7 separate regions of the Homo sapiens genome follow, and regions 1, 2, 3, 5, 6 and 7 are each reported to be linked to region 4. Evidence: microRNA targets listed by miRTarBase, many of them from high-throughput screens and not tested one by one. Region 4 holds a microRNA gene; each other region holds the end of a gene's coding sequence.
The links. Region 4 holds the annotated microRNA hsa-miR-6766-5p (CGGGUGGGAGCAGAUCUUAUUGAG, at 2,829-2,852, shown strand). A microRNA usually pairs through its seed, bases 2 to 8, with sites in the 3' UTR of a target mRNA and lowers its output. Matches are read on the target gene's strand: a 7mer-m8 pairs with bases 2 to 8, a 7mer-A1 pairs with bases 2 to 7 and ends in A, and an 8mer does both.

Region 1: the mRNA of ARMCX6 is a reported target of hsa-miR-6766-5p. Seed matches in the 3' UTR shown: 7mer-A1 at 3,367-3,373 and 7mer-A1 at 2,860-2,866.
Region 2: miRTarBase lists C11orf58 as a target of hsa-miR-6766-5p. Seed matches in the 3' UTR shown: 7mer-A1 at 1,944-1,950.
Region 3: miRTarBase lists SEC22C as a target of hsa-miR-6766-5p. The part of its 3' UTR that is shown has no 7-base or 8-base seed match.
Region 5: the mRNA of PLEKHG3 is a reported target of hsa-miR-6766-5p. Seed matches in the 3' UTR shown: 7mer-A1 at 1,909-1,915.
Region 6: miRTarBase lists RTL10 as a target of hsa-miR-6766-5p. Seed matches in the 3' UTR shown: 7mer-m8 at 2,855-2,861.
Region 7: the mRNA of ANP32B is a reported target of hsa-miR-6766-5p. Seed matches in the 3' UTR shown: 8mer at 549-556 and 8mer at 553-560.

The regions. Positions count from the first base shown.
Region 1 is chrX:101,612,315-101,616,391 of GRCh38, forward strand. ARMCX6 (armadillo repeat containing X-linked 6) reads right to left here. Exons shown (of 3, transcript NM_019007.4): 3 at 2,811-4,077. The coding sequence ends at 3,404. Among named protein-coding and RNA genes, the nearest start is that of ARMCX6, 3.6 kb to the right of the region's middle. RefSeq lists an enhancer at 1,295-1,857.
Region 2 is chr11:16,754,567-16,758,643 of GRCh38, forward strand. It overlaps C11orf58 (chromosome 11 open reading frame 58), which reads left to right. Exons shown (of 5, transcript NM_014267.6): 5 at 305-3,774. The coding sequence ends at 538. Among named protein-coding and RNA genes, the nearest start is that of C11orf58, 18 kb to the left of the region's middle.
Region 3 is chr3:42,549,896-42,553,972 of GRCh38, reverse strand. SEC22C (SEC22 homolog C, vesicle trafficking protein) reads left to right here. Exons shown (of 7, transcript NM_032970.4): 7 at 525-4,077. The coding sequence ends at 725. Among named protein-coding and RNA genes, the nearest start is that of VIPR1-AS1, 19 kb to the right of the region's middle.
Region 4 is chr15:89,325,634-89,329,633 of GRCh38, reverse strand. MIR6766 (microRNA 6766) reads left to right here and starts at 2,824; the gene lies at 2,824-2,895. It overlaps POLG (DNA polymerase gamma, catalytic subunit), which reads left to right. Exons shown (of 23, transcript NM_002693.3): 4 at 524-691; 5 at 803-949; 6 at 1,099-1,178; 7 at 2,285-2,467; 8 at 2,571-2,722; 9 at 2,896-3,022; 10 at 3,948-4,000.
Region 5 is chr14:64,743,109-64,747,185 of GRCh38, forward strand. PLEKHG3 (pleckstrin homology and RhoGEF domain containing G3) reads left to right here. Exons shown (of 17, transcript NM_001308147.2): 17 at 1-4,077. The coding sequence ends at 595. SPTB (spectrin beta, erythrocytic) reads right to left here. Exons shown (of 36, transcript NM_001355436.2): 36 at 3,175-4,077. Among named protein-coding and RNA genes, the nearest start is that of MIR7855, 41 kb to the right of the region's middle.
Region 6 is chr22:19,847,848-19,851,924 of GRCh38, forward strand. RTL10 (retrotransposon Gag like 10) reads right to left here. Exons shown (of 3, transcript NM_024627.6): 3 at 1-4,077. The coding sequence ends at 3,320. All of the region lies in intron 2 of GNB1L (G protein subunit beta 1 like), which reads right to left. Among named protein-coding and RNA genes, the nearest start is that of GNB1L, 5.0 kb to the right of the region's middle.
Region 7 is chr9:98,014,996-98,019,072 of GRCh38, forward strand. It overlaps ANP32B (acidic nuclear phosphoprotein 32 family member B), which reads left to right. Exons shown (of 7, transcript NM_006401.3): 7 at 369-948. The coding sequence ends at 436. Among named protein-coding and RNA genes, the nearest start is that of ANP32B, 34 kb to the left of the region's middle.

The DNA of each region.
Region 1 (4,077 bases), not on the chromosome of region 4:
CAGCACTCTGCTGGACTCTGGTGCAGTGCCCATCTGCATCATAGAGCAGCCAGTGTCCCTCAGAAGAGAGGCAAGAGCAACCCCTTGCCACAGCTGCCCAACTCTTAGCCCAGTGGTGCATCGTCAGAGGGACGGACTGGGTGAGGGCTATGCTGGTCCAGGGTGGCACTTAAAAGTAAGGGGATCGTGGTGGATACTGCTTTGAGAGTGACACATAGCACCCCGGTGAGGGTCCCGTGTCTGAGACAGGACGTGCCTGCCGGGAAGCTGGTTGTCTGCAACCTTGTGTGCACTCACCTGGAGGGGGGCGGGGTGGGGGTGGCAAACCACAAAATCCCTAGGAGAGGCAGCAGGCTGGGGAGGGCACCTGAAGTTGGTCTGGAAGTCAGTCAGTGCCTACAGGCACCAAATGGAAACGTGCTCATAAGATAGATGAGAAGCAAAACTGAGGGCCCTTTCTGGAGGTGGAAGACAGCCTGTGGCGGCAGTTCCAGATTGACACAAGAGACGGGCTCAGGCTGGGGCGGCACCATCAAGGCAGAGCACTTCTCACAGAATGTGGCAAGCTCAGGATTGATGACCTTTTCCAATGTTTGCCACGGGGAAGCCCAGAAAGGCTGTCTTTTGGTTGCAGCAGGCAGGTATGCATTGTGATTGATGGCTCAGGGCTGTTTTTATGTTTGCGTTACATATGGAATGGGGGCACCGGCGCTCTTGCCAGTGCTGAGAACCTCTCAGTGTCTTGATCAGGCCCTGGGAGGCAGGCATGCTCCCGACTCCCCCCGCGCATCCCAGGGAGGCAGAATCCACGGGAACTGGGCTCGTACCCAGGCACTGCAACCAGTCAGGGGATGAGGGGCAGGACAGAAGGGCTGTGCGTGAGTGCTTTCGGGAGGGCAGTGCCAGCAAATGGACAGGAGGGTTTTGACTTGGGCCAAGACAACGCCGTGGAGACACTTGGACGCTGATGGGCTTTTCTGTGACAGAGTTTGCTCAGGAGATGGGCAGAAAGCCTCTGGGGCGCTCCCTGAGTTAGGACTCAGCTGCGGCCTCACGGTGTCAAGTGCCTCAGCGATGGTGGACAAGCGCACGTAAAGGGAAACTTGGTAGCGTGCAGGGAAGTAGGGAGGTGCATGCTAATTCGGGACCACAGGCTAGGAGGATGCCTTTGTGCTCAAAGAGACTGAGCAATGAGGTGTCACTAAAGACAGCATTGGCGAAGCAGGCTCCACTGGGAAAAGTGCATGCGGAGCTGTCTGCAGGGAAATCCCCTTTGAAATCAGATTGCCCAGCCAAACTGCGGCTGGCTTGGGAGAAAGGGTGGTCCTTCTGACAGCTCTTAGGAACCCTTAGGAACCGGGACAGGGCTCCCAGAGCCAGCCAAGGAAGCCCCAGCAGTGTGAGCCTTGACAGGGGATGTGGTGTCACAACAACTGCAAGTCACTTGTTGGCCATCCCAGGCACCAGGGCCTGGGAAGAGGTCTGGTCCCCATTCCAGGTGGGAGGGTTTCCCAGAGTTGGTCAGGGGACCCGGCAGGCACTCAGGCCGTCTGGCCAGCATGGACTGTGGGGCAGATGGTACAAGCAGGAAAGTTGTAACCCACCTGGAAGGCAAGCTGCGGGGGGAAGGGAGAATAAGACAAGAAAAGAAAGCTTTGTTCTGTGTGGAACAGAACAAGCAGAATGCCCAGCACCACAGAGATCGCAGCTGCCCAGGACACAGTGACCCACAGCAGCAGCCCTGGGAGACCGAGAGGGCACCGGGCACGGCAGCAGCCTTGCCCAAGGGGAAGCAGATGTGTTTACTGGGTTTGCCATGGCTTTAGGGAAGGGGACCACTTCTTGACACATCACAAACATGCAGGGAACCTGGCTTTGCTGATTCAGGGGCTAAACCTGCTGGGCGGGATCTGGTAATGTTGGAGGTGGGGGCGGGGCAGAACGAGCTGCCCTGACCCATGGAGTGCTTCTGCGCCCACGGGCTCTTCCTTTCCTGGCAAGGTGCAGGCACCTCAGATGGAGAGTGTGGAGGTGTCTCCGGATGGATGGAGTGGCCACGGTCGTGCCAAGTGCCCTCAGCATCTGCCCTATCACCCCCGCAGGTAGTTGATGGAGGGCTCCACTGTCCCCTTCCTGGGTCCCACCACAGGTAGTGGGGATATGGAAGAAAGGAGGTTGCTCCAAAGGGAGCAGCGGCCAACCCTCTCACTCTGCCAGGAAGTAGCGCTGGGGATCCCAAGGAAGAGAGAAGGAGGGCTGGAAGCAGATTTCCCCCTGGCTTCGCAGGAGGGATAGAACTACACAGGGTAGGTGCTGGGCAAGCGGCAACCTTTATCGCCATCATTGTGCAATAAATGCGCCCCGATGCGTGGTAGAGCGCCCCCACCCGTTCCACCCCGGTCCCCATCCCCACGTCGGGATGCGCCGACAATCGAAAAGGCCAGGGTTACTGACCTTTCTCTCCAGGCTGGCAGTCAAGGAAAAGACATTAAGAAGGGATTTCTCTGTGCCGGGGCACGGTGCTGCCTGCTCCACGGGTGTTGTCTCTTTCAGTCCTCTCAACATTCCATCCTAATTCCACGAACTCCCCCGCTGTGCCCCTCCCCTTCCCCCACCCCCGCCTCCAGCCCCTTCTTGAAGTTTATTCTGAGCACTGCAGCCCCTCTCTATCCCTGCCTCCTGTGAGCACCGATAAGCCTGCATTTGTCACGGAGCAGACGTTCCAGTCAGCTGGCGTTTACCGTGCTTTTTTTTTTGTCCTTCTCTCCGTGCAGACTGTAAACTCAAGGACAAGGACCATGACTCTTTTCTGCCAATCAAAGCACACAACTTTATTGATGATACACACAGATGCGGACTTGGGTGGAAGAGGTTAAGTCGGTACAATAGACAGAAGAGCAGTGCACTTTTTTGATGAATAGGTTCACTATCCATCAGGCGCGTGTAGAAGAAAGAGCAAACGAAAAATAATTCAACCTAAGCTGCAACAAATGCATTTTCAGCTCAAGCCGCGATATGCCTCTGGTCTCTGCAAAGCGGTCCCGCTTGGACAGGGAGACCACCACAGGCAACAATAGCACTCGTGATGCTGTAATTTGATGTTCTTTGTCCACAGCAGGCAGCTGAAGTGATCCCCTCACCACATGAAGGAGGCTGCAAGGGAGGAATTTACAATGCCAACATTGCCTGCAGACTGCACAACCAAGAAGTTACTCAAAGCTCTGTGGGAGCCCCTGCCTGGCCAATAAGAGTGTGGTCCTGGATTGAGCCCTGGAACTTTCACCCAATGAGGTGGTGATTGGCTAAGGCTGGATCTTCAGTAGCACCCTCTGCAGATTCTTTGACATCTGCAAACCAAGCGCGTTGTGGGTGGATTCCGTCCCATTGTGTTCGAGAGGGCCGTTTATGGGGCAGGGGTTTCCAGGAGAATCTCTCTGTTTCCATTTCTGATAAAGAGGGACATGAATGAGAAGAGCATCTGGGCACCGACTAACTCCCCCGCCAAGACTGGCTTTTCAGACAAACCCATCAGCGGTTTCAAAACCTGAACCTTAGCACATCCACTTCCCTCTGATATCAAAGGAAACTTCAAGTCTGAAGCGGACTTGGCAAGCATGTTATTAATAACTGTCATGCTTATTAACAAATTTAATCCGGCCTGCTGCAGAAATGAGTTGCAGCAACGTGACACAGTCTCCCGACACACTTCATTGATGTACATCTTAATCTGGCCCTGACTTTCAATACTCGCATTTAAGTTATCCGGGGCACACAAAGCCTCTCTAACAGTGGGGTCTGGAGTGGGGCTCGTGTTTCTAGCCATTGAGAGGCTGGCCAAATGGCTATTGATATCCTGGCTAAATGGAAAGCCCGCATCCTTGGGCTCGGCAAACAACAGTTTTCCCTGAATGAAAAGACACTTGGAGAGGTCCAGAACACAACTGCCATTTTTACAATTTTGAGCACTCCAAGTATTTTTATGTTCATAGGGGAATGGCCGCTGTTTTATTGGGTGTGCTCGGTTGGCCTTGCCTCCCCCTGAGGGCCTGTCCTCAGTGCCACCTGGGGCCCCAGGTT
Region 2 (4,077 bases), not on the chromosome of region 4:
TTTTTTTTTTTTTTTTTTTAAGAGACAGGGTCTCACTATGTTGCCCAGGCTGGTCTCAAACTTTGGGCCTCAAGCAATCCCCCTGCCTCTCAGCCTCTTGAGTAGCTGGAATCCCAGCCACAGGTATGAGCCACTGGGCCCAGCCAGACAGAGCTCTTTCTTAAAATTCTACTCAAGTCTTAAAGCTGTTGTTCTAATGGCTACAAAGTAGAGTGTTTCTAAGACCGACAGAACTTACGGTCTTTCTCAGATTTTGTATGGGCTAATGTTTATTTTTAAAAGAGCCTGTTGATTGATGTTTTAGGTAGAAGACCATGATGGAGAAGGTGATGTGGCTGGAGATGATGATGATGACGATGATGATTCACCTGATCCTGAAAGTCCAGATGATTCTGAAAGCGATTCAGAGTCAGAGAAAGAAGAATCTGCTGAAGAACTCCAAGCTGCTGAGCACCCTGATGAAGTGGAGGATCCCAAAAACAAAAAAGATGCAAAAAGCAATTATAAAATGATGTTTGTTAAATCCAGTGGTTCATAACTCCCAAACGCTTAGTCTTTGTATTAAAAGTAAGCCTTATTGTTACAATGCACAGTGGAGGACTGCTTATAGAGCACAGACCTTTGTATTATAATTTTTAAAAAGGCCCTTTTAAATAATTACAAAGAGTGTTTGCTTTCAAATGCCATGGGTTACACTTTTATGGGCATGACTATAACCATTTTTGTAAAGAGTAAGAGTTGTATAAAATAAGAAATAAATACAGTACTCAACTTCCTTTCATATTAGCATCATCAACCCTCTAATTCACCTTATGGGGGAAATGCTTCTTTTTGTTTGTGATAGCTATTTTATCATTTCCTTCATATTTTTCTCTTATAAAAATGTATTTGATACTGTGATATGTTCACGAAAAGTATTCTTTAATTATTCTTTGTTATAGTAGAGCTGTTCATTATGGATATTTCTGCTGCCAGTCACAATCTAAATTAATTTTGGCAAAAGATTGGGTACTTAGTTTCCTGTTACTGAGTTAGCTCTACTCTTTTGGACCAAAGCAACATGAGAGCAAGTACTTTTCACACTTGTTAAGATGGAGTTATAACTGTCATACATTTGGAATATTATGATCCCAAGTAGTCTTTTTATAATTTGGATTGTATCGTATGTTAGATTTTTGATAAAATTTGGCCAATTTTTACAGAAGAAATTCTCTGATCATTTAGTTCTGTCTATTTAGAAATATGTAAAACTGGATTTTTTTTTAAGTAATATGTGACCAAAGTTAATTTTGTCCCAAAGGTCTAAATAAAGAGCAGTTTCCCATATTTGGCTGTGATACCTTTATCCTCATTATCTACAAATGAGGAACAGGCTTACTGATAAGAAGCTGAAACAAGAAATTCTCTTCATTTTATCCCAGTGCTATTTTATTGATTAATTACTAAAAAGTATTACTTTCTAATTTTATTGCTGTTTCTGTTGGTGTGAGATTAGAATCATCTGACTGCTATTAGGTGGTTGATTTGTATAGCTGATTAACACAAATTGCATTATGAGCTAGTAAATGGATCTTTGGATAATGGGGTCCAAATTCTTAATGTTTATAAGTAACAAGTTCAAAGGCTTTAGTCACACCTGTTTGTGAGCTGAGCTATTATACATCTACATACTTAAAGGATGTATTTGGAGTGTTGGATTTTTTTTTTTTTTTTTTTTTTTTGAGACGGAGTCTCATTCTGTCGCCCAGGCTGGAGTGCAGTGGCGCGATCTCAGCTAACTGCAACCTCTGCCTCCCAGGTTCAAGCGATTCTCCTGCCTCAGCCTCCCAAGTAGTTGGGACTACAGTCATGTGCCACTACTCCTGGCTAATTTTTTGTATTTTTAGTAGAGTTGGGGTTTCACGGTGTTAGCCAGGATCGTCTCGATCTCCTGACCTCGTGATCCACCCACCTTGGCCTCCCAAAGTGCTGGGATTACAGGCGTGAGCCACCACGCCCAGCCTTGGAGTGTTGGAATTTTTAAAAATTATTCTTATGTCACTTTGAAATGTAGAACGTGTTGCCATGTGCGGTGGCTCACACCTATAATCCCAGCACTTTGGGAGGCCGAGGTGGCTGGATCACCTGAAGTCAGGAGTTTGAGACCAGCCTGACCAACATGGAGAAACCCCATCTCTACTAAAAATACAAAATTAGCTGGGCGTGGTGGTGCATGCCTGTAATCCCAGCTACTCAGGAGGCTGAGGCAGGAGAATCACTTGAACCCAGGAAGCGGAGGTTGCAGTGAGCCAAGATCACCCCATTGCACTCCAGCCTGGGCAACAAGAGCAAAACTCCATCTCAAAAAAAAAAAAAAAAAAAATTTAGAATGTGTTAGAGAAATTTAACAAGTAGAACAGGTGATTTCTGGTTGATAGACTCTATCTTGCAGTATATTTATTTCATGTATCAGACCCCAAAGTTGTTGCCTTGTTATTTTTTTAATTTCTCACATTTTTGAAAAATAGATGCTATCCTCTATAGTAAAATATTGAATCACTTTATAGTAGACAATACATATGACATTTAACAAATACTTGGTTTGAAAAAGTTTGGCTTTATTCAACAATTTTAGTTTGCCCACTGATTTTCAAATGTCTGTGGGATTGCTTATAACTAAGTAGAAAGTGAAGACTGATTTTTACTTAAGAATGGGATAGAGATGAGTTTTATGGTTTTTAAAAGTATTTTCAGTTCATTATTTAAATGTTGGGTTGTTGATATGGTCTTGTTTCTGATAAGGAAATAGGAGCAACTTGTTTTAAAATAACTACACTAAAAGACTTTCTTCATCTCCGTATAGAGAAATCCAGATTTCAATTAATTCATTTATTGGGTGCTAACAAAATTCAGGGTTAGAGTAAATTTAGGTCTGTTGGTCCATGTGGCCTGGTTTCCTAGCACCCATTAAACATAATGCTATCTTTTAAGCCTGAACATGTGGGTTTTTTAAATCAAATTGGAAAAAAATTAGACAACTGATGTCATGCTGTCTTGGTATCCATACTAAAAAAGTATCAGGAAAATAGATTATTTTTGTGCTGTGAAACACTATTCAGTGGAAAGTTTAGTGGCAACTTTTCCATATCATTCATGACTTAATACCTGAAATGCACTTTTAAATGTTTGCCTTATATCCAAGTGTTTACTTGTATCCATGACCTAACCGTCTATTGAAAAGAATGTTTGCAGATGCAGATTGCAATGTTGTTTGTATTCATAGGCAAAAGTCCTCTTCTCTAGTATAATTTTTTAAATCTGAGAGAATTGAAGGTACAGAAAAAAATTCTGGAGTGCCTGAACCACAGTTTGAGAGCACAAAGGTCACATTCTTTCAGTAAATTTGGGGGAAATAAATTTCAGCTACCTGGTTAGCTTCAGTGACTACTTACACACAGGGCTTTGGTTCCATTACTTGTTTCCACCACAGCCACATCCTAAATACTTGGAATATCCGAAAACAACTTCTAAAATCACTCAATAAAAGTATTCACTTCTAACCAACTCCTCCTCCTTTATACCTGCTCTGTGTTAGGGCGTAGTCTGTTTCCACCTCTGTAAGTCCTATCTAGGCTTCCTGATCTATCAATTCAGTATCATGATTGTTAACCCAAACGACTTCCTGGAAAATTCCCAGCCCTAGATGTATCCAAGCCCTCCTACCCTCACCAGTTATTTCTGGAGAAAGATCACCAAATGTATAAATCCGTATTAGTAAAAATTGGTTTTAACTGACCTCAGCACTGCCCATTACCCTTATTTTCTCTAGTCGGTTCTCCATTCTTACTATGTAAAACTTATACTCTGAAACTTGTTACCCTCTTTTTTTCCTTCACTCTTAACATGTCCTTGCCTTCTATCTTACATAAAAATAGAGACCTTCAGGCACAAATTCCCTGAACTTCACTTACTAAATCCACAGCCATGGACAAGATTCTGTGCTCTAGGTTGTGACATCCCAACTCTACCACAGGGCTAAACTCGGTGACCTTGAGCATAAGTTGATCTCTCTGGGTCTCCTTTCTGGGTAAGTAAAAT
Region 3 (4,077 bases), not on the chromosome of region 4:
CAGAGATGCTTTGGAAGACATGATAAGGAGGGTGCCCAAGGGAAGAGTGGTGCTCAATGTAGTCGTGGCTCAGGAGAAACCAAAATAGTAAAAGCATGGCTTTCTCTCACCAGCTTGCTTGCCTGTCCTGGCTCCCTGAAGAAAAACTTCACTGGGGGGCCAGTCAGTCACGTTAGGGTCCCCTGTCTGCAGCCTGGCTGTCTGCAGCTTATGTGCAGCTCTTCTTTCTCTACTGCCAACAGCCTGGTCATTTCTGTCTATTTCTTTAACTTCTTTCAGATGTGCCATGCACTGATTCTTCCTGTGACATCTATTTCACTTTCCTTTAATCTTCCAAATCCTCACTTTCGTCCAATAATTAGCAGCCTAACCAGTGGGTCCACGCTTTACTGTAATGAATTCAGTTTAATCAGCTAATGTGAGAGAAATGACACTCTTCATGGAAGCTGTGGGAGGTGAATTTTGCATATGATCTAGTGGCCATTTTATCTCTGATTGGAATTCCTCTTCTGGTCTCATTTCAGTGTTATTTGTACCTGTTCTACAGTCCAGCCAGGACTATGAAGGTGGTGCTTATGCTGCTCTTTATTTGCCTGGGCAACATGTACCTGCACGGGCTGAGGAACCTCTGGCAAATCCTTTTCCACATAGGAGTGGCTTTTCTGTCTTCATATCAGATACTAACAAGGCAGCTTCAGGAGAAGCAGTCTGACTGTGGAGTATGAGGATGACACTGTGATGAATGGATTCTTTGATTTTCTTTTGAGGATCAATCTATGTTTCTCTTTCTGCTTCTCTACTTTACACTCCAGTTTCCATCCTTTTCAGCCAACTGGACTGAAAAACCAGGAATTGGGGATGTTAAACAGTTGCAGTGGAAGTCATGAGGTTGCTTGATACCCAGCCTTGGTTCTGTGCCAAGCATTACTGCAGGATCTCCAGCCAGTTCAGCACGTTTACCTAGGACAGCTGGATCTGGGGGCTCATCCAGAAAGAGCTTTATTGGAAGAGAGAAAGGAAATATTTTGGTCTTTTAAGTTGAATGATACAGTAAACCACTTGATTCAATAACACTGGTTTTAGTCATTGAGAGTTGTCTCCAAGGAACCACTTTAAAATCCAAATCAGCTTTCAGTCTAAACATAACTTGATTAGTTTTTTTTTTCAGAGGGTCAGTACAGGATGAATTAAAAACCTAAAAATATGGTTCATAAATGTAAGCTAGATAAATTTTGTTTACATTTTTTCAATATCTTAGGTTCGATATACCTTTGGAATATTTAATTATATTTTGGATATAAATTGGACTTCATTTAGGGTGAGGGCAAACTTAAGCTGAGAAAATGGTTAAGAAATCTGAGTTTATTTAATTTATATGTAACCTTTTATAGTGGTGGGACTGTTTGGGTACAGAGATGTTTTATATTTATTTGCAGGGTATATCCGAATATTTTAAAAATTAATTGAATAACCAGTACTTCTAGATGATAAGTTTGTCAGCATGAGCAGAAATGAGAATTTCAGGATTACTTACAATTGACCACAACCTGGAGTAGGTGAATGAACATGGATTCAGTGGCACTTTACAGATCCGCTTGGGAGGGGCTGCTGTCATCAGCCTTTTCAGTAGAGCTGAGTGCCTGTTGTTTTAATGATGATGACTACTGTACCCTGTGTACCTGTTCCCAGAGCGCCTCCAAAATTAATTACTCCTCTGCACCTTTCCCAGTCATCTTAATTAGCTTGAGGGCCTCATTTTTTATGAACAAGAGTTAAGTATCTGTTAACTTTTTAAAGCTTGATAGAGATATAATTAACACATACTCTGGAAAGTTACTCTCTTTCACTGTCAAAAAATTGATTGATCACAGTTTTCCAAAATATGGTTCTGGATAAGATCCCTTAGGTTTCCCGAAATTTCAGCCTGGCTTGTTTTGTACCACGCAGGAGGTCATTTTGGGAGTTTGCTCTTTGGATTGTTCTTGGTAGAAGTCTGGAATCTGAATAGTTCAACCACAGTTGCATGGAACACTTTGAGTGTTCAACTGCATTATGTGGTCTTGATAAATTTTTAAAAATCCTATTTTGATAGTTTTTAAAAGTGGAAAACCATTACAAGAGTTGAGTGGATAGGGAATGTAAGAATGTAGTTTTAGAAAAATTCAATTATATTTGGTTATCACTGGTATTGTATTGTTATTGAGCTACCTTGTTATCATTTTAAGAAAAATAAGTTTATATACTGGGAACTATGTTGGGAAAATGTTGCCATAGTAACTTTATTTTTTATAATAGAATTTTCTATTTTTGACCAAACATAAAATATTTGGATATGGGCCAGGCATGATGGCTCATGCCTGTATTCCCAGCACTTTGGAAGGCCAAAGCAGGAGACTCGGTTGAGGCCAGTAGTTTGAGACCAGCCTGGACAACATAGTAAGATTCATCTCTACAAAAAAAAAAATTAGCCGGATGTGATGGCACATGCCTGTAATCCCAGCACTTTGGGAGTCTGAGGCAGGAGGATCCCTTGAGTCCAGGAGTTTGAGGCTTCCATGAGCTATAATCACACCACTGCACCCCAGCCTGCATGACAGAGTGAAACCCTGTCTCTAAAAAGTCTGAATATGAAAATTATATTGGCAGCATACTCAGACATAAACTCCAAAGTTGTCTCTACACTGATTTCACATCTGCATAATTTTCTGCATACCCAGCAGGTGAATTTTCAGTTTTTCTGGGAGACAATTTTGAAGAGATGGTGAAATAGAATGGGAAGTTAAGGAGGGGAGGTAAAATGTTTTAAATGAGAAGAACAAAAAAGCTTTAAAAGTCAATAACACTTTGGGAAGCTGAGGTGGGCAGATCACGAGGTCAAGAGATCGAGACCATCCTGGCTAACATGGTGAAACCCCATCTCTACTAAAAATACAAAAATTAGCTGGGCACGGTGGCTTGTGCCTGTAGCCCCAGCTACTCAGGAGGCTGAGGCAGGAGAATCTCTTGAACCCGGGAGGTGGAGGTTGCAGTGAGCCGAGATCGAGCCACTGCACTCCAGCCTGGTGACAAAGCAAGACTCCGTCTCAAAAAAAAAAAAAAAAAAAGTCGGTAAGAACGGCTTAAAAATGGACTGTTTTCTTTTCCTATGTGGCATTGGGTTGCCATGTAGACCTGTACCCCAGGTGCTTTGGGCATCTGAGCCTATGATCCATATTCAGCAGGCAGTAAAGAAACGGTCCTTGAAGATGAGTCCTTCCTGGTAATGCTTCCTGACCACCGAGGCACTACCAGAGATGTTATCCACACCAGGTCGAATGTGTGGATATCAGTTAACATCTACATGGGGTGAGATTGACTTTTGCAAACAAAAGGGAAAAGATGCACTAGAAAAACAGTACAAGTAATGACCACAAAAACATTGTTTGACTGAAATCCAGCTAGCTAAAAGAATCCTCAGCTCACTGAAGGAAGAGACTGAAAATAGGAAAGAAGTTCTGGTGATTTCATCCGAGGGAAATCCCCAGGCTTAGGTTTGACTTGGTTCAGGGTTGGAGGTTTATAGCCTCTTGTGTGATCCTTGATACCAGCAAACTGGTTCCAAATCCCAGGAGTTATCCTCACTCCACCATGGACTCACTGTTGTTGTAGCACTTTTGTTTTCCCAGTAGTTAAATGCTACCTGTGCAGCTGACATCACTGGACTAGATCTGGGAATAGATGAAATAATGTTGAAAACAAAACTTTAGAGGTGCCTTCTGGTATCAGATGCTGCAAGGCCTTGAGCATCAGAGTGTGTTAAGTCCCATCTACTGTATCAAGGCCAGAGTGTGGCTCCATGCTCTTAGGAAGGGTTTCCCAACCACGGGGCCAGAGCCCAAAAGGTTTCCCCTTCCCTAATATGCTAATGAACGAAACATGTAAATCTGTTTTCCCCTGTTAGGCTAGTCTTACTGTGATGAGAAGTGTACCTGGCTTTCCTTTTCCTGGGTGGAGACAGCTGGGGCATATTCGGGTGGCATTCCCTCTCAGTACCAGAGGCCCCACTGCCTGCAGCTGGAGGCATGTGACCATAAGCTC
Region 4 (4,000 bases):
TGGTGTATAGTAGTGGCAATTCTTAATTTTATGAAAAGTGTTTTTTCACTGGATCTTCACAACAGCCCTAGAAGATAGGCCAGGCAGGGGAGAGCAACCTTACCCTATAGCTGAGGGTGCTGAGGCTCAGACAGCCTTGTTGACATGCTCAGGGCCACAGAGCTTTTGAGTGGCAGGGTTGGGGCCAGACCAGATAGCCCTGAAGGCTTTATTTTGGCCACTCTGTATCTACGTTGCTCAGAGCTATTGTTGGAAGCTGAGAAGGACTTGCACATTGGGATTGAGCCAGGCCTGCATCTTAAAGGGTGGCTAGGATTTGGGAAGGCAGGCCCCTTACAGGTGATGGGGCAAGCATGAACAAGCATGAGGATTCTGTATTTGGTGTTGAAGGCTGTGTGCTGGGAGGGGAGGCTGTTTGAGGAGCTGAGGTGGGGCTGGAGGTCCACACCACCAAGCAGTGGTGGGCTGGCCCCACAGTTGCAGCCTCCCTCCTTCCCTTCCCTTTTCTCCTCCTCCTCCTCAGGGTTCCCGCATGCGTTTCCTGGACACCATGAGCATGCACATGGCCATCTCAGGGCTAAGCAGCTTCCAGCGCAGTCTGTGGATAGCAGCCAAGCAGGGCAAACACAAGGTCCAGCCCCCCACAAAGCAAGGCCAGAAGTCCCAGAGGAAAGCCAGAAGAGGCCCAGCGGTGAGAGCACACTGCCGGTGGGCAGGAGCATAGTGCTTGGGACCCCCTCTCACCAGCCCGTCTGGCCCGAGGCCAGGCTGATCTGCCATGTCCCTTGCTCTGGTTCCCCAGATCTCATCCTGGGACTGGCTGGACATCAGCAGTGTCAACAGTCTGGCAGAGGTGCACAGACTTTATGTAGGGGGGCCTCCCTTAGAGAAGGAGCCTCGAGAACTGTTTGTGAAGGGCACCATGAAGGACATTCGTGAGAACTTCCAGGTATGGTGCTGGAGGGGGCTCTGGGGACATGGGCTGTGGCACACCCCTAGCTGCACTTGGGGAGATGCAGCTGCCAGGCCTGACCCTGAGAGCTGGTGGTGGTAATGGGATGGCTGCCCACCTTGCGCCTTCCTGTCACCTTGTGCCAGGACCTGATGCAGTACTGTGCCCAGGACGTGTGGGCCACCCATGAGGTTTTCCAGCAGCAGCTACCGCTCTTCTTGGAGAGGTGAGGGGGAGCCCATGTGGGAATCTCTGGGGGTCAGTGTGTTCCTGGTACCCGGGCCCACTGTAATCAGGTGGCGCTGGTTCTATCTCAGGTTGGGGACCTTAGCTTTTCTAGGCTGAAAGAATGGAGCCCTTCTGTTCAGTGGTGTCCATCTGGGCCCTGGACTCTGGATTTGACAGAGGCCCTGAAGGGGAGGGCCATGGAGTTGTGCTTGTGTGTCATGTGCACGGTCCTGGTTTACTGTGCACCTTCTCTAACTAGATCCTTAGCCAAGGGCTTCACATACAGCGTGGTTATGTTTATTAATGAGTCTGTCTTATGAAGTGACCCTTGTATGCTGAAAATTCAGGTATATTTGTACCAAAGATATGGAAAGAAAAAAGAAGGGAGGAAAATTTGGGTGTAACTTTTGACTCCCTCAGAGCTTAACTACTAATAGCTTGCTGTTGGCTAGAAGCTTTACTGATAACATAATACATATTTTTTATGTTATACGTATTATATACTGTATTCTTAAAGTAAGCTAGATAAAAGAAAATGTATTAAGAAAATCATGAGGAGAAAATATGTTTACTATTCATTAGGTGGAAGTGGATCATCATAAAGATATCTATCCTTCACGTTGAGTAGGCTGAGGGCGGGGGTTGGGCTTGCTGTCTCGGGTGGCTAAGGCTGAAGAAAATAAATGTGTAAGTGAACTTGCACGATCCAGACATGTGTTGTTTAAATGTCAGCTGTATTTTACCACCCAAGTTGTGAGGTTCAGGCATGATGTTTTTCATGTATGGGATTATTAGCACAGTGCCTGGCACAGAGTCATTACTCCACGTGTGGCAGCCATTTTCACTTTTGCCATCTATATTTCCCACATTACCCCTGAGGATGGGATGATATTGTTCCCATTTTATAGATGAAAGAACTGAGGCTCCGAGAGATGGGGTTGCTTACCCAGGGATGAGTAACAGTAGAGCTGGGATTTAATGCCGTCTGACTTTTGAGCTGTGCCATGTCAGTGGCTGGGTTGAGGCTTGCTAAACCAGCTCAGGGATTGGGCCAGTCTTGCCTCCTGTGGTCATTTATGGCAGCTCCTGGTGTTTGCCTCCAAGGTGTCCCCACCCAGTGACTCTGGCCGGCATGCTGGAGATGGGTGTCTCCTACCTGCCTGTCAACCAGAACTGGGAGCGTTACCTGGCAGAGGCACAGGGCACTTATGAGGAGCTCCAGCGGGAGATGAAGAAGTCGTTGATGGATCTGGCCAATGATGCCTGCCAGCTGCTCTCAGGAGAGAGGTAGCCAGGCCTTGGGTGGGCAGGATCTAGGCAGGGGACTGGCAGGTGGGCGGCCTAGCCTTCGGCTTAGCCTTAGCCCTGCCCTAGTGGACTGGCTCTGTAGGTACAAAGAAGACCCCTGGCTCTGGGACCTGGAGTGGGACCTGCAAGAATTTAAGCAGAAGAAAGCTAAGAAGGTGAAGAAGGAACCAGCCACAGCCAGCAAGTTGCCCATCGAGGGGGCTGGGGCCCCTGGTGATCCCATGGATCAGGAAGGTGGGGAGCATGGGTGGGAGGTAGGGTAGGGTAGGGGTTGTCTCTGGGAAGGTCCTGTGATTGAGGGGGTCCTTCGAAAGGATTGCTCCAGCCTTCTGGAGATGAGCGGGTGGGAGCAGATCTTATTGAGAGTTCCTTCTCCTGCTCCTGATTGTCTTCCCCCACCCTCACAGACCTCGGCCCCTGCAGTGAGGAGGAGGAGTTTCAACAAGATGTCATGGCCCGCGCCTGCTTGCAGAAGCTGAAGGGGACCACAGAGCTCCTGCCCAAGCGGCCCCAGCACCTTCCTGGACACCCTGGGTGAGCCCTGCCCACCCCCAGCAGTGTATCTAGAGTCTACCCTTGCTCCATTCTCAGGACAGCCCTGGTCTGGGTTCTGGCACAGAGGCATCATGCACATGTATACTTATTGACCTGCTGCCATTCAGTCACACTGTCTTCCAGTCCTATTCTCATTTGCTCACTCTGGACCGGCTCACTGGACTCATTCAGCACAGTGTTGTGAGCACCTGCTGTGCAATGGCCCGTGGCAGCCACCGGGTGTACACACTGGAGCATAGCTCCTCCTTTCCAGTAGTTCTTTTTCCTAGGAGGAGCCAGGCACGTAGACCAGCCAGTGCAGCTAGTGTCCATAGGTAGAGTTCTGACTCTGCCTCGGGAAATAAATCAAGAAGGCTTCCTTGAGAAGGTGCCCCTTCCTTTGAGCCTCATAGGGTGGCAGAGATGAGAAAAAGGGCAGCCAGGGTGAGCAGCAGGGTGCCAGCTTTGCACCTGCAAGACCCTGAGAGCAAGTGTCCTGAGTGCCTTGCTAGTCTCACCCTGGGCTCAACTCTGGTGAACAGCCTGCAAGAGAGCACCCAGAAGGACTGGTGTTTCTCTAGAGGGGTGGGGAGGGCAGATCTGCTCCCTCCTCTGGTCAGTTACCCTGGATGAAATGGAGCTTGGGAAGGAGCCCTGCCCTGGGTCAGGGTATGCTTTTGTGTCCTGGCTTCTGACTAGTCCAGTGGGACTGACTTAGTGTCTTTGCTTTTGAAATATTCTTCTAGAGGATTCCATGGGGGTCCTGGCTAAAGCATCCCAGAGGAGGGGATGGCGGCTGTAGGCTGGGGTCACCAGAAAGCCCCAGGGCTTTGGAGGGTGGGTGGGGACATTGTGAGAGAGAGAACCTTCCCCCCAACAACTGCCCTTACCATCGTGACACTGCTGTCTTCCTGCTGGGACGTAGATGGTACCGGAAGCTCTGCCCCCGGCTAGACGACCCTGCATGGACCCCGGGCC
Region 5 (4,077 bases), not on the chromosome of region 4:
CAGCCAGAGGACCACCTCGCCTGGGGGCCGGCCCTCCGCCCGGAGCCCCCTCAGCCCCACAGAGACCTTCAGCTGGCCCGACGTCCGTGAGCTCTGCTCCAAGTATGCCTCCCGCGATGAGGCACGCCGAGCAGGGGGCGGCCGGCCCCGCGGCCCACCCGTCAACAGGAGCCACTCGGTGCCGGAGAACATGGTAGAGCCACCTCTGTCGGGCAGGGTGGGCCGCTGCCGCAGCCTGAGCACCAAGAGGGGCCGGGGAGGCGGAGAGGCTGCCCAATCCCCTGGGCCTCTGCCCCAGAGCAAGCCGGATGGAGGCGAGACCCTGTATGTCACTGCAGACCTCACCCTGGAGGACAACCGGCGGGTGATTGTCATGGAGAAGGGACCCCTTCCCAGCCCCACTGCAGGGCTGGAGGAGAGCAGTGGCCAGGGACCAAGCTCACCGGTGGCCCTGCTGGGGCAGGTTCAGGACTTCCAGCAGTCTGCAGAGTGCCAGCCGAAGGAAGAGGGTTCCAGGGACCCGGCAGACCCGAGCCAGCAGGGCAGAGTGAGAAACCTTAGAGAGAAGTTCCAGGCCTTGAACTCTGTCGGTTGATGCTGACTCCTGGGGGAGGGAGGAGTCATGTTGGAGGTTGGGGAAGAACCTGGGCATCCTTCCCCTCAAGCCTGGGCTCATGGAGCCCCTGCCCAGGGCCCTCAGGTGGGCGGAAAGTCCATCCCCTCCGCCCTTCAGGAAGGATGCTCCCGTGTGCAGGGGTCTCCTGCCTGTGCCATCCACTGGGGCTCGAGACAATTTCCCACTCACCTGTGAGGCCGGTGTGGCTGCTTCCCTTGTAAATAGTTGTTCTCTGGTAAGAAGCCAAATATTTAAGCTCACTTCTTCCCAGAGAGAGGAAGCTCTGCTCAGGCCTCCAGCGTTGGCTGGCCATGGCCACAGCCAGATGGAGGAGCCCATCCCCAGGAGACTCAGGCAGTGGCCTGGAGAGGCTTTGTTCTGTAACGGTGCCTTTTCTTAGGGTCCAGGCAGGAATGAAGCCAATAATTTATTGCTTTCCATTCTGTGGTATGATGTGCGTGTGCGTGAGTGTGTGGCCCCTGTTTATTCCCCTCCTGTCAAGAATGAAGTGGATTCAGTTCAGGTACTTTTGAGGGTTGTTGTGCTGACCCTGTGGTTGTCGCTGATGTACACACATTTCATTATTTGCCAATGGTGCAATAACCACTGCTGACCAACCCACTATGTGTGAACTCCTTCCTAGGCTTGGCTGGGGTAGGGAAGGTTATTCATGGGCCAGGGATGTCTTAGGGAGATGGAGACATGGAGGTTGTTCCTTCCACACTCAATTGTCACTTGGGCTTATGAAACATAAGGCACCCGGGTACTGGTGGGGGAGGTGGGGCAGGAGGATGTGAGGGCGGGCTTTTTCTTTCTGCTGCCTAGACTCCCATGGGCTTCTCTGTCTAGCAGCAGCCTGCTGTCCTGTCTAGGGTAGGGGGTCCCGCATGCCAGCCTTTTGCTCTTTTCCCCAAGGGCCAGAGTTGGACCAAGAAAAAGGGAGGTGGTGAGGTGGATAGACTGTTTTTCTCATAAGCAGATGCTCCCAGTATCTGGTGCCTTTTGCGTTTCTCTCCGGTCCCCAGGAAACATCCTAGAAGACAAGGATTTTTTTTTTTTTTTTTTTTGAGACAGAGTCTTATTCTGTCACCCAGGCTGGAGTGCAATGGCGTGATCTTGGCTTACTGCAACCTCCGCCTCCCAGGTTCAAGCAATTCTCGTTGTCTCAGCCTCCCAGGTCGCTGGGACTACAGGCATGAGCCACCACACCCAGCTAATTTTTTGTATTTTTAGTAGAGACGGGGTTTCGCCGTGTTGACCAGGCTGGTCTCGAACTTCTGACCTCAGGTGATCCACCCACCTCGGCCTCCCAAAGTGCTGGGATTACAGGGGTGAGCCACTGCATGCGGCTGAAGGTAAGGATTCTAAACTCGGAGACTAGAAATGTCCTAAAGGTGTCTGCAACATTGGATGAGGAGTACAAGTGCATTTTTCTGGGATGATTCCTCCCTTTTTATCACATTCTCAGAAGTATCTTTGATTCAGAAGAGTTAGGAATGCCTCCCTATTTCAGTTGGGTTTTCTGCCCTTTCTCCACAGAGGTCCAGACTCATTTTGCTTAATTTTTTTTCTAGCTGGGGCCTGGGAGGTAGAGGCTTCAGGGCCTGGGTGGTAGAGCTGCCTGACAAGTGTTCAGCAGGGCTGCTGGGTCAGGGCCCTGTGGGCCTTCTGACCCAACCTGAAGATGGGTCTGCTAAGTCTAACAAGGTCAAGGGAAGATCAGAGGGACCCAGATTCTTTTTTATCCCCCACTTGAAACGGAGTCTTGCTCTGTCGCCCAGGCTGGAGCGCAGTGGTGCAATCTTGGCTCACTGCAACCTCCGCCTCCCTGACCCTCACACTGTCCAGTGCCCTTGTGGTTACTCAGCATCATATCTTGAGACTGGCCTGGCAGGAGCCAGTGACTGTGGAATGACCACAGAAGATTCAGGGCAGCTGCCAGACCAGGGGCTATCTCTGCCCTGCGCTGCTTCTGCTCAAGAGAGGTTGTCACTAGCCTCTGATCTTCCCTTGAAGAACCCGACTGGGGCTCTTCAGAGGGTGGGGCCCAGGAAGTTGTAGTTAACCCCTTCCCCAGGCAGTCCTTACACGGCCATCTAGGTATGCCTGGGAACCTTGCACCAGGTCGGTGGTTCTCACTGGCTGCCCATTGGAATTATCTGGGGAGCCTTCTGGAAACGCAGTGCTTACATTCCATCTCCCTAGACCAACAGAAACTGCCCTCTGGAGGTGAATCCCAGGCTTAGAGATTCTGATGATTCTGCGGTCCAGTGAGTGCTGAGATCTGTCCTGAGCTCTGTGGGGAGGGGCCTGGACTGATCACTGCTTGGAAATGATTTTGCCCTACAGTAGGCCTTCAAGTTGATCAAATGCATGAATGAGCAAGCTTTTCTTGGAGTTTGTGATGAAGCCCAGGAACCGGGTGCTTGCAGTCGTCCCATAAGGCTCCCAGGGACAAGCTAGAGAATCTGGCTGTCCCTCTGTCTCCATGGTGCCAGCCCTCTTAGGCTCAGTTCAAAGGGAGAGGAGGCTAGTTAAATAAGAAACTGAGAGAAACATGGAGCATTATTGATTTATTAGAAAAACTAGTAAATGGGTTTCCTCTGGTTGGTGGAAGCACGGTTGAGCAGGTGGAGGACAGGACCCAGCTGGCCCCAGGGCCAGCCCCAGATTGCATGGTCTGTGCCCAACAGGGTTGCATTCCTCTGCAGCCGCCGCCTCCTCATTTCCTCCCTGAGCTTGTTTGTCCAAGCCACCAAGCCATGTGGTCCCGCTGGCTTCATCCTCCTCTGGATTCCTGCCCCCCTCCCATGAAGGGAGGAAGAGGATTCAGGGTCAGCCTAGGGGACCCTGGCTCCCTCCGATAGGCAGGAAGGAGGAGGGATGCGGAGGAGAGGCTGAGCCTTCCACGGGCCTCCTGTTAGGGGTGTTGGTGGAGGCCAGGTTGGGGAGGGAAGCCTAAGGACCCTCCACACCTCCCACAGCCAGAGTCAGTTGAGGCTGGGACAAAGGGGAAGGAGAGAGGGAAGGAGGACCGCCTGACCTTGCCCAGAAGGAGCTTCCTCTAAACTGCCCTGGGAAGGAAGCCTGGTATGCTGGTGTGGACTGGAGCTGTGTCAACCTCGTTTGGGAATACTGTCAAAAGACTGTAGAGTAGAATAAGGAGAGAAAAAAAAAAAAAGACCTTGCTAGGGCACTGGGAGAGCTTAGCCCTGGTGTGGCACACACAGGGTCTCCCAAAGCTGGATGCCTGCATTTTCAGTCTAGTTGGTCGAATGTCTTGGAGCCTGGGTGACAGGAGGGATGTGTGGGGAGCTGGCAACAGAATGGTCACATGCAGCTGGCTGCCCTGGACCAGGCCAGGGGACCTGGGGTGGTGAGATGCTAGCTCTTCCACTAGAGCCCTTCCTTTCTCGGGTCTGTGGAGTTGCTTGCTGGAAATGCCTCACTTCAGGTGCTGA
Region 6 (4,077 bases), not on the chromosome of region 4:
ACTTTCATAATTGTAACATTGAAATCTTTAATCTGGAATATGTACTGGCATAAAGAGTGAGGCACATACATGGCTTTACTATTTTCCAGAGGGCCAACTGCTTTTACTGAATAATCCATTTTACTCGTTAATTGGAAACACCTCTAGCCTGTACTAAATTTCCATATTTATTTGGCCCGTTTCAAAGTCCTCTATTCTCTGCTCATCTGTCCACATCTAAGTGCTTTAACTATTGTGGCTTTATAAAATATTCCAATATCCCATAGGACCTTATCCTTAGTACTTCCTATTTTAAAGTTTTCCTTGCAGACAGGTACTTTAAATACCATCTCACAGCACCCATCATGTCCTATCTTCAGGAAATAAAATCTCTGGGTATTTCCAAGGGAAGTGAAGGACTGACACCATGATTAGAAAGCAGAGCCAGCACCATGGCCCGTCCCTGAGCATGTCCAGCAAACCCTGCCAGGCTCTGCAGCTCCTGAGCACCCTGCCTTCGGGTCTGCCAGTGTGTGGGGGCCAGAAGAGAAAAACAACCCAGGGGGAATGCCTCCTTCCCCCAGCAGGAAAGCAGCTTGGTCATCATCTGTCTGAAAGCAGGTGCTGCAGCAGCTGGCAACAAAGCCACTCTGAAAGGAGCTGTGTGCACTGCCTGTCTGGAAGGCCATGCCAGAGTCCATCGTTGCCTCCACCCTACCTGTGCAGGAAACCTGGACATCACCACTTCAAGGCCCTACCTTCCTTTCTGGGCAGAGCCCAACCACAATAAACAGGACGCGTTTTAATTAAAAACCAGGTCACCTGGACTCTCCCAAGGACTCTCAAGCCTGCCTAGGTGGATGCTGCATGACTGGCCCTCAGACACACGGCAGACCATAACTCACACACCCCCAGGAGCTGCCTGGGTCCCAAGGGCACAAAAGCCCCAAAGCCCCAATAGGACAGGGTTCAAAAGAGAAGGCAGCAATCCCAGGCTGGAGTATCCACTTCAGGTCCACTAAAGGGAGATGGGGAAGGTGGCCTGTCCAGAAGCCTGTGGGACAGGGTAAAGGTCAGCTGGGTGACTAGGCTGTCCATCCTAGAGAGCAACTCTGGGTTCTACTGCCAGACCCACAGGTGAGCCAGGCCACAGTGCACTGGAGGTAGGCATCAGGGAGCAGTCTGACCCAACCCACAAAAGGGGGGATGGGGCCTGAGTCATCGGACGGAGGGCAGCTGTGACCTGGCACAGAAGCATGGGGCTGGGCCAGGACATCCAGGGACTTCTCACATCTGACCAGAATCAAGACTGAAAATGGGTTTCTTCTGCCAGCTCACTTGCTTTGCTACCAGGGCTATACCTGCTTTCTAAAAATAGCTTCCCACCTATTTCCAAGGTTTCCAGTTGTTTTACCTACAAGGTATCTGTGCCCTGAAATAACTCACACATAAAACCATCTGAACCCAGAGCCTTTTCTAGTGATAGTTACCATAAAATAATCCCAACAATTTATATTTTTCTAAATAAGGTTTTTGTTTTTTGTTGTTTTTTTTTTTTTGGGATGGAGTTTCACTCTTGTTGTCCAGGCTGGAGTGCAATGGCGTGATCTCGGCTCACCACACCCTCTGCCTCCTGGGTTCAAGCAATTCTTCTGCCTCAGCCTCCCAAGTAGCTGAGATTACAGGCATGCACCACCACACTTGGCTAATTTTGTATTTTTAGGAGAGATGGATTTCTCCATGCTGGTCAGGCTGGTCTTGAACTCCTGACCTCAGGTGATCCACCCACCTTGGCCTCCCAGAGTGCTGGGATTACAGGTGTGAGACACTGCTCCCGGCCAGTTTCTGAATAAGTTTAATCAGATGCTTGCTAATTAGTTTTTCCTAAAATAGTTGGCTGTATTTCCAATTCACATTTCTGCTTTTTCTTCCTACTTTCCAGGAAGGTGTTGTTTTGTTGTTTTCACAATTGTAAACCTGAAAGGGACTTGAACTTCTTGTCCAAGCACCAGAGTGGGCACACACTGCACACACTGGGCGGCTGTACCTGCCTATCCTGTGGTAAACTTGGCTCCAGGAGCTTCCAAGCTCAGCTTCCACTAGAAAACCCCTCCTTGTGTGGAACAGGTCTTTCTTCATTCCATTCCTCTGGGCCTGGGGCCTCACAGCTCTGGACTGCTGCCTGGTCCTCACTTCACCTACAGCTCTCGGAAGTCAGTTCTCTACCTGCAGAGCCACCCACCCCCTACTCAGCCCCACCCAGCTTCTTTGATCAGACCCTTGGACCCTCAAAGCCCCTGCCAGAAACCACAGCTGCAATGCTGACCTGGAATGCTCATGGCCAGGCCTCTGCTCCTGACAGAATGGGAAACAAAGACTTGCTGGTAGGCAGCCACTGCACCACCTCAGCCAGTAATCCAACACGTGTTTAATGAGCACCAATTGTGTACCAGGCCACAGAGCTGACTAAGACAGAGCCCCTGTGCTGAGGGTCACAGTCTGCCAGGAGGGAGATCCAAGTCATTTACACACTAGGGCTTAAGTGCTGAATCCGCAATGCATGCGAGTGCGGAGTGAGCAGGGGATGGCAGCACAGCAGCAGGGAAGAGGAGCCTGCTTCAGAACACCAGGCACGATTAGAGCTACAGTGTTAACACACAAAGGGCGAATGCCTGCAGCTGAGCCTGGCAAGGGGCTTGCATCCCACCTTCCTGCATCCAAACCTTCCAGCTGCCCAGAACTGCTGGTAATCCCACAGGAAACATCATTCTTTGCCAAGATGCTATCCCACTCATCCCCCAGAATCAAAGTGGCCACTTCCTCCAGGCAGCCTTCCTCACATTCCAGCTGGGACAGAAGTCACAGGGAGCAGAGAGGGTGGGGCTAGGGGGACAGACACAGAAACCCCATACAGGAACGAGGTCCCAACAGGGCAGACGTGGCAGACCCAGTTCAGTCCCAGCCAGTGTGGAAGACACCAAGGGGGGTGTTTTATGGGGGTGGAGGTGACAAAGATGATGCAACTATCTGCTGAGAGTTGATCTACAAAACGACCCCCTCGTGGGAGCAGGCCTGGGTGAGACGGCACTCCCAGAAGACGGGCAGGGATGCAGCAGAGAGCCAGCAGCAGGGAAAGGGCACAGGGCGGAGGTCAAGCTCTGCTGGAGTTGGGGGAGCTGGTTCTGCTCAGCGCAGAGTCCAAAACAAGCGCATCTTGCCCAGCTATGGGGTCTGAAGTCATCTGGGGACACCACTCTGCTCTGACTGGGGACTATGGGGCGCTCAAGCCACACAGGCCACTTCATCATGAGGGGCAGCATTGTTCCCACCTGGGCTGTGTTCAGAACCCAGGAGAAAGTGGTGGCTCTCCTGGGGTCTCCGGGGCCTCCACCACCTCCTGTGGGGTACCTAAGGACACCTCCTGGTCTCCCTCTGTCTCCAAAACCTCCTCCTCTGTTTTCTGGGGTTTTGGACCTCCTGGATGAGCTGGGTCTGGTCTCTGGGCAGGAGGATTAGCTGACTCCGACAGTCTAGGGACAGGTGTGGGGGCTGCCTCCTCTGGCTGGGAAGAGGCTGGTTCCACAGGACCAGGCTTGGAGCTACATGTAGAACTGGGCAGGACTGGGGGCTCCTTGGGCCCAGGGGTGCTCTCCTTGGTCAGCTGCTGCTCGAACAGAGCACTTCTAGATACAGAGTTGGACCCAGACACAGCAGGGGTGGCCATGGCGGCTGGTAAAGACCTGGGGGCAGTACCCATGTCGAGTGCCAGGCCCTCTAAGAACCTAGCTAAGTATTGCCTCACCACAGGCAGCTGAGGGGCCACTGGCAGCTGGCTGGAGGCCAGGGGCAGGGGACAGGTAACCACAGCATGGTACTCAGCAAAACTGTTCGGGTCTTGAACAACTTCCTTGAGATCCTGGCAGAAGAGCTCGTAATCGTCAGGCAGGGGCAGGTCCCCATCAAGGTAGGGGGCTGCCCAGGCCTGGGCTCGGCCTGTTAGGCGCCTGAGGATCTCGCAGACACGGCTGATGTTGTCCTGATAGTGCTCAAAGTGGAAGGACATGTAATCGCCCAGCTGGGCCAAGAAGCGGTCCAGTA
Region 7 (4,077 bases), not on the chromosome of region 4:
GCCTGCCTTGGCCTCCCAAAGTGCTGGGATTATAGGCATGAGCCAGTGGGCCTGACCAGCTCAGGTTAATAATAAGCACTTTAATAATTGCTAGATTTGTAAAAAGAAACATTTGGAAGACAACACCTTAAAATCGAGGAAACTGGATTAACTTTTCCTGGGTGAGTTGAGGTGCTGCTGTGCATTTTGCTTTTCTTGGTTCTGTGGTCACCACTTATACTTGCTATTAGTCACCTATATTAATCTGATCAAGTTTACATTGTTTTATCTCCTAACTGTCAAAAACTTTGTTGTTGTTGCCTCCATTGGCAATAATCTAAGCAAAATGCCTTTCCACTGTCCTAAAGTCAATTTTTGTTACTGTACAGAGGAGGAAGAAGGTGGGAAAGGTGAAAAGAGGAAGAGAGAAACAGATGATGAAGGAGAAGATGATTAAGACCCCAGATGACCTGCAGAAACAGAACTGTTCAGTATTGGTTGGACTGCTCATGGATTTTGTAGCTGTTTAAAAAAAAAAAAAAGGTAGCTGTGATACAAACCCCAGGACACCCACCCACCCAAAGAGCCAAAGAATAGTTCCTGTGACATTCCGCCTTCCTTCCATGTAGTCCCTCTTGGTAATCTACCACCAAGCTTGTGGACTTCACCCCAACAAAATTGTAAGCGTTGTTAGGTTTTTGTGTAAGATTCTTGCTGTAGCGTGGATAGCTGTGATTGGTGAGTCAACCGTCTGTGGCTACCAGTTACACTGAGATTGTAACAGCATTTTTACTTTCTGTACAACAAAAAAGCTTTGTAAATAAAATCTTAACATTTTGGGTCTGTTTTTTCATGCTTTGCTTTTTAATTATTATTATTATTTTTTTTACATTAGGACATTTTATGTGACAACTGCCAAAAAAGTATTTTTAAGAATTTAAGCGAAATAAACAGTTACTCTTTGGTAAAGCCTAGTTGTATGCTTACATTTTTAAATTATACTCTCATTGTAAGCTCATGTTAAAACACCAAAGAACTGGTTTATTTGGCATTTTTATATTAGTAGTTGTTGAGGGGAATTGCACAAGTGTGTAGGATCTTTGAGCATTTAGATCAAATCCTCATTGATAACTGGGAGTAAATGAAGCATACTTTAAAAAATAACGTTCAAAATGGAATACTCTGGGGCCCTGAAAACCAGTAAAATGTTAGGTTCAAGTATTATGTGAATTAAGGGAAAGAAGATAGTGTAAAGCAAAAGGCCTTCACCAGAATCCCAAGAGATCTGAATTCTAGTTCTGGCTCTGCCACTGATTTTCTGTGTGACCTTGTGTTGACTCTGGGTCACCACCCAGTCTGGAAAATTGAAGGGGTGTGACCAAATGGCTTCTGAAGTCACTTGTAGCACTGATGTTCTGTGACCCTTGCTGACAGGAAGGTCTGAAGAGAAAAATGGGCTTTCCACTAGTCTGAAGCATGTAGGGTTTGACTGATGGGTGAACACAGTATGGTTTGTTGCCAAGACAGGCGTGAAAAGGGGGAATGACATGTGAAAAGCCTCACCAAGCAGTGGGTAGGCACTGCCTGAGGTCAACTCAGGTTTTCCATAAGATGGAAATTTTCTCTATTCTTACAGATCTTAAAGGGATTTGAGAAAGGAGGATATTCTGTCTGTATTCAGTGATTAACCGTTTAGCGAAAATAGATGTATGACTGCATTATCAATACAGTTTTTTATAGTGGAAGATTTAAGGATTGTTTCAGTAAATTTTAGCTTATAGCTGCTGGAATGAGTGAGGTTTTTGATGCATGTAAATGCAATATGTAAAATTGGAATCTAATTTGAATTTATAACAAGTCACAGTCTCTATGGAGCCCCCAAATACTGTACTTTAAAATCAAAATCTCCCATAGACTTTAAAATGGAGTTTCTTTTTTGCAAAGAAAATCCAAGAAAATTTGATTTCTGATTTTACAGGTATTACACATCATTTTCCCCAACCATAAGGCCATTTTGGCAAACCTTCAATACATTGTAAAATGGTTTCTTCTGTAGCCTAAGTGTGTCCTTAAGGTTTTGCTTATTTGTCAAATATCAAACACAGTAACTTTGAGTGATTATTTTTCCCGGTTTGTTGTTGTTGTTGTTGTTTTTAGTTGTTTTTTAAAGTTTACAGAACTTCCCAGTATCTACCAAGCCTGTAGGATATGCCAGGCTTATTGGCTGGGCAAAAGGGAAGGGAATTGGGTTAAAAAGACAAGCCAGCCCTTGGTGCTCATAGTAACTAGTCAGGAAGAAAAGACATCAACACAAGTAATATTTACTAGGACCTAGGAGCAAGAGGTTTAGGTAAGTTTTAGTGTAGCTCAGAGGCTGGAGAGATGGCACCCAACCTGGAGGGAGGGAAGCTTCTTAGAAAAGAAAGTACTTCAGCTGCACATGCAAGTGTGAATAGCGTCTATAAATAGGAATAGAGAGAGAAGGGAGTATCTTGGTGAGCAGAGGTTAAAGGTAGGAAACTGCTGAGTACAGTTAGATACAAGTAGATTTGACAACACATGAATAGATGATAATACTGGACAAGTCATTTGGGCTCTTGTAGGGGGCCTTGAAGGTCAAAGCCTTTTTGTGCATTATAGTAAAATATTGATGTCACCTGTATGTGGCCAGTGAAGATGCCTTTGACATGGTCCTCAGAGAAGCAAGCTGTTTGGTGATGAGGTCACACAGCAGACTATTTTTGGAGTTGTCTCCCATCTGAAGGAGAACATTGAGAGGGTTTGCTTCCAGCTTCTGCAGTAAGTTTAGTTATAAAATGTCTGAGCTGGGTGGCAGCTATGATGGGCTAGATGACTGGTCCTGACTAGCTGCTCCGAGGTTGGTGGAGGTGTGTTCTACATACACACCTACATGTGTGATACATTGGTATGCCATCTTTTTGAAGCTATTTTCTTTTTTCTTTTTTTTTTTTTTTTGAGATGGGAGTCTTCGCTGTCGCCCAGGCTGACATGTAGTGGCACAATCTTGGCTCACTGCAACCTCCGCCTCCTGGGTTCAAGCAATTCTCCTGTCTCAGCCTCCCGAGTAGCTGGGACTACAGGCGCCCGCCACCACGCCTGGCTAATTTTTGTATTTTTAGTAGAGACGAGGTTTCAACATACTGGTCAGGCTGGTCTTGAACTCTCCTGACCTCAGGTGATCCACCCACCTTGGCCTCCCAAAGTGCCAGAATTACAGGTGTGAGCCACTGTGCCCGGTCCATGGCGCCCTGTTTTCAACCTCTGCTCTTACCTTTAGTTCACTCCTCTTTCAGGAGTCCAGCACCTGAAGAATGATAGTGGCCAGCGTGGAAATGCACAAACCACCTTGTGTAAGATACTGCACCCTACCCGCTCCTGTATCACCACCACCAGGACTCCTGGTACATACTCCAGGACAGATACAGGAGAGTTGAGTCGTCCTGTTCCTGGCATTCCTATCTGGGCTACACTACCTACCCCATCGCCAGAGAAAGGTGAGACAGAAGCACAAAGTGGTTGTACACTATGCTATGACCTTCCAGTTTTCTCCAGCTCTGTTGCATTGTGCTGCCATCAATTTTAATGAGCCTGATGATACCGCCGTGTTGACAGTTTGGAAAGGGAATCAAGTTACTAGTAGACTTAAGCTGCAGCCAGCCAAACAGTTGCTCTGCAGGAAAATCACCAAGATTGCAGTGAGTGTGGAAGTCCTCAGAGCCAATTAGGTCAGCTTAATAATCTCTGATCAAGTGGGTATTTTATAACTTGTCCCAGGGGTGTTGGGAGGGCATATGGAGAAAATACCCTTATTCTATTGCTTTTTGTTGTTGGAGACGGTCTGACTCTGTCACCCAAGCTGGAATACACTGGCACAATCATGGTTCACTGCATGCTCGACCTGGGCACAAACAATCCTCCCACCTCAGCTGAGTAACTGGGACTATAGGTGCGTGCCACCATGCCTGGCTAAATATTTTTGGTAGCGATGAGGTCTCACTATGTTGCACAGGCTGGTTTCAAACCCCTGGGCTCAAGTGATCCTCCTGACTTGAACTCCCAAAGTGCTGGGATTACAGG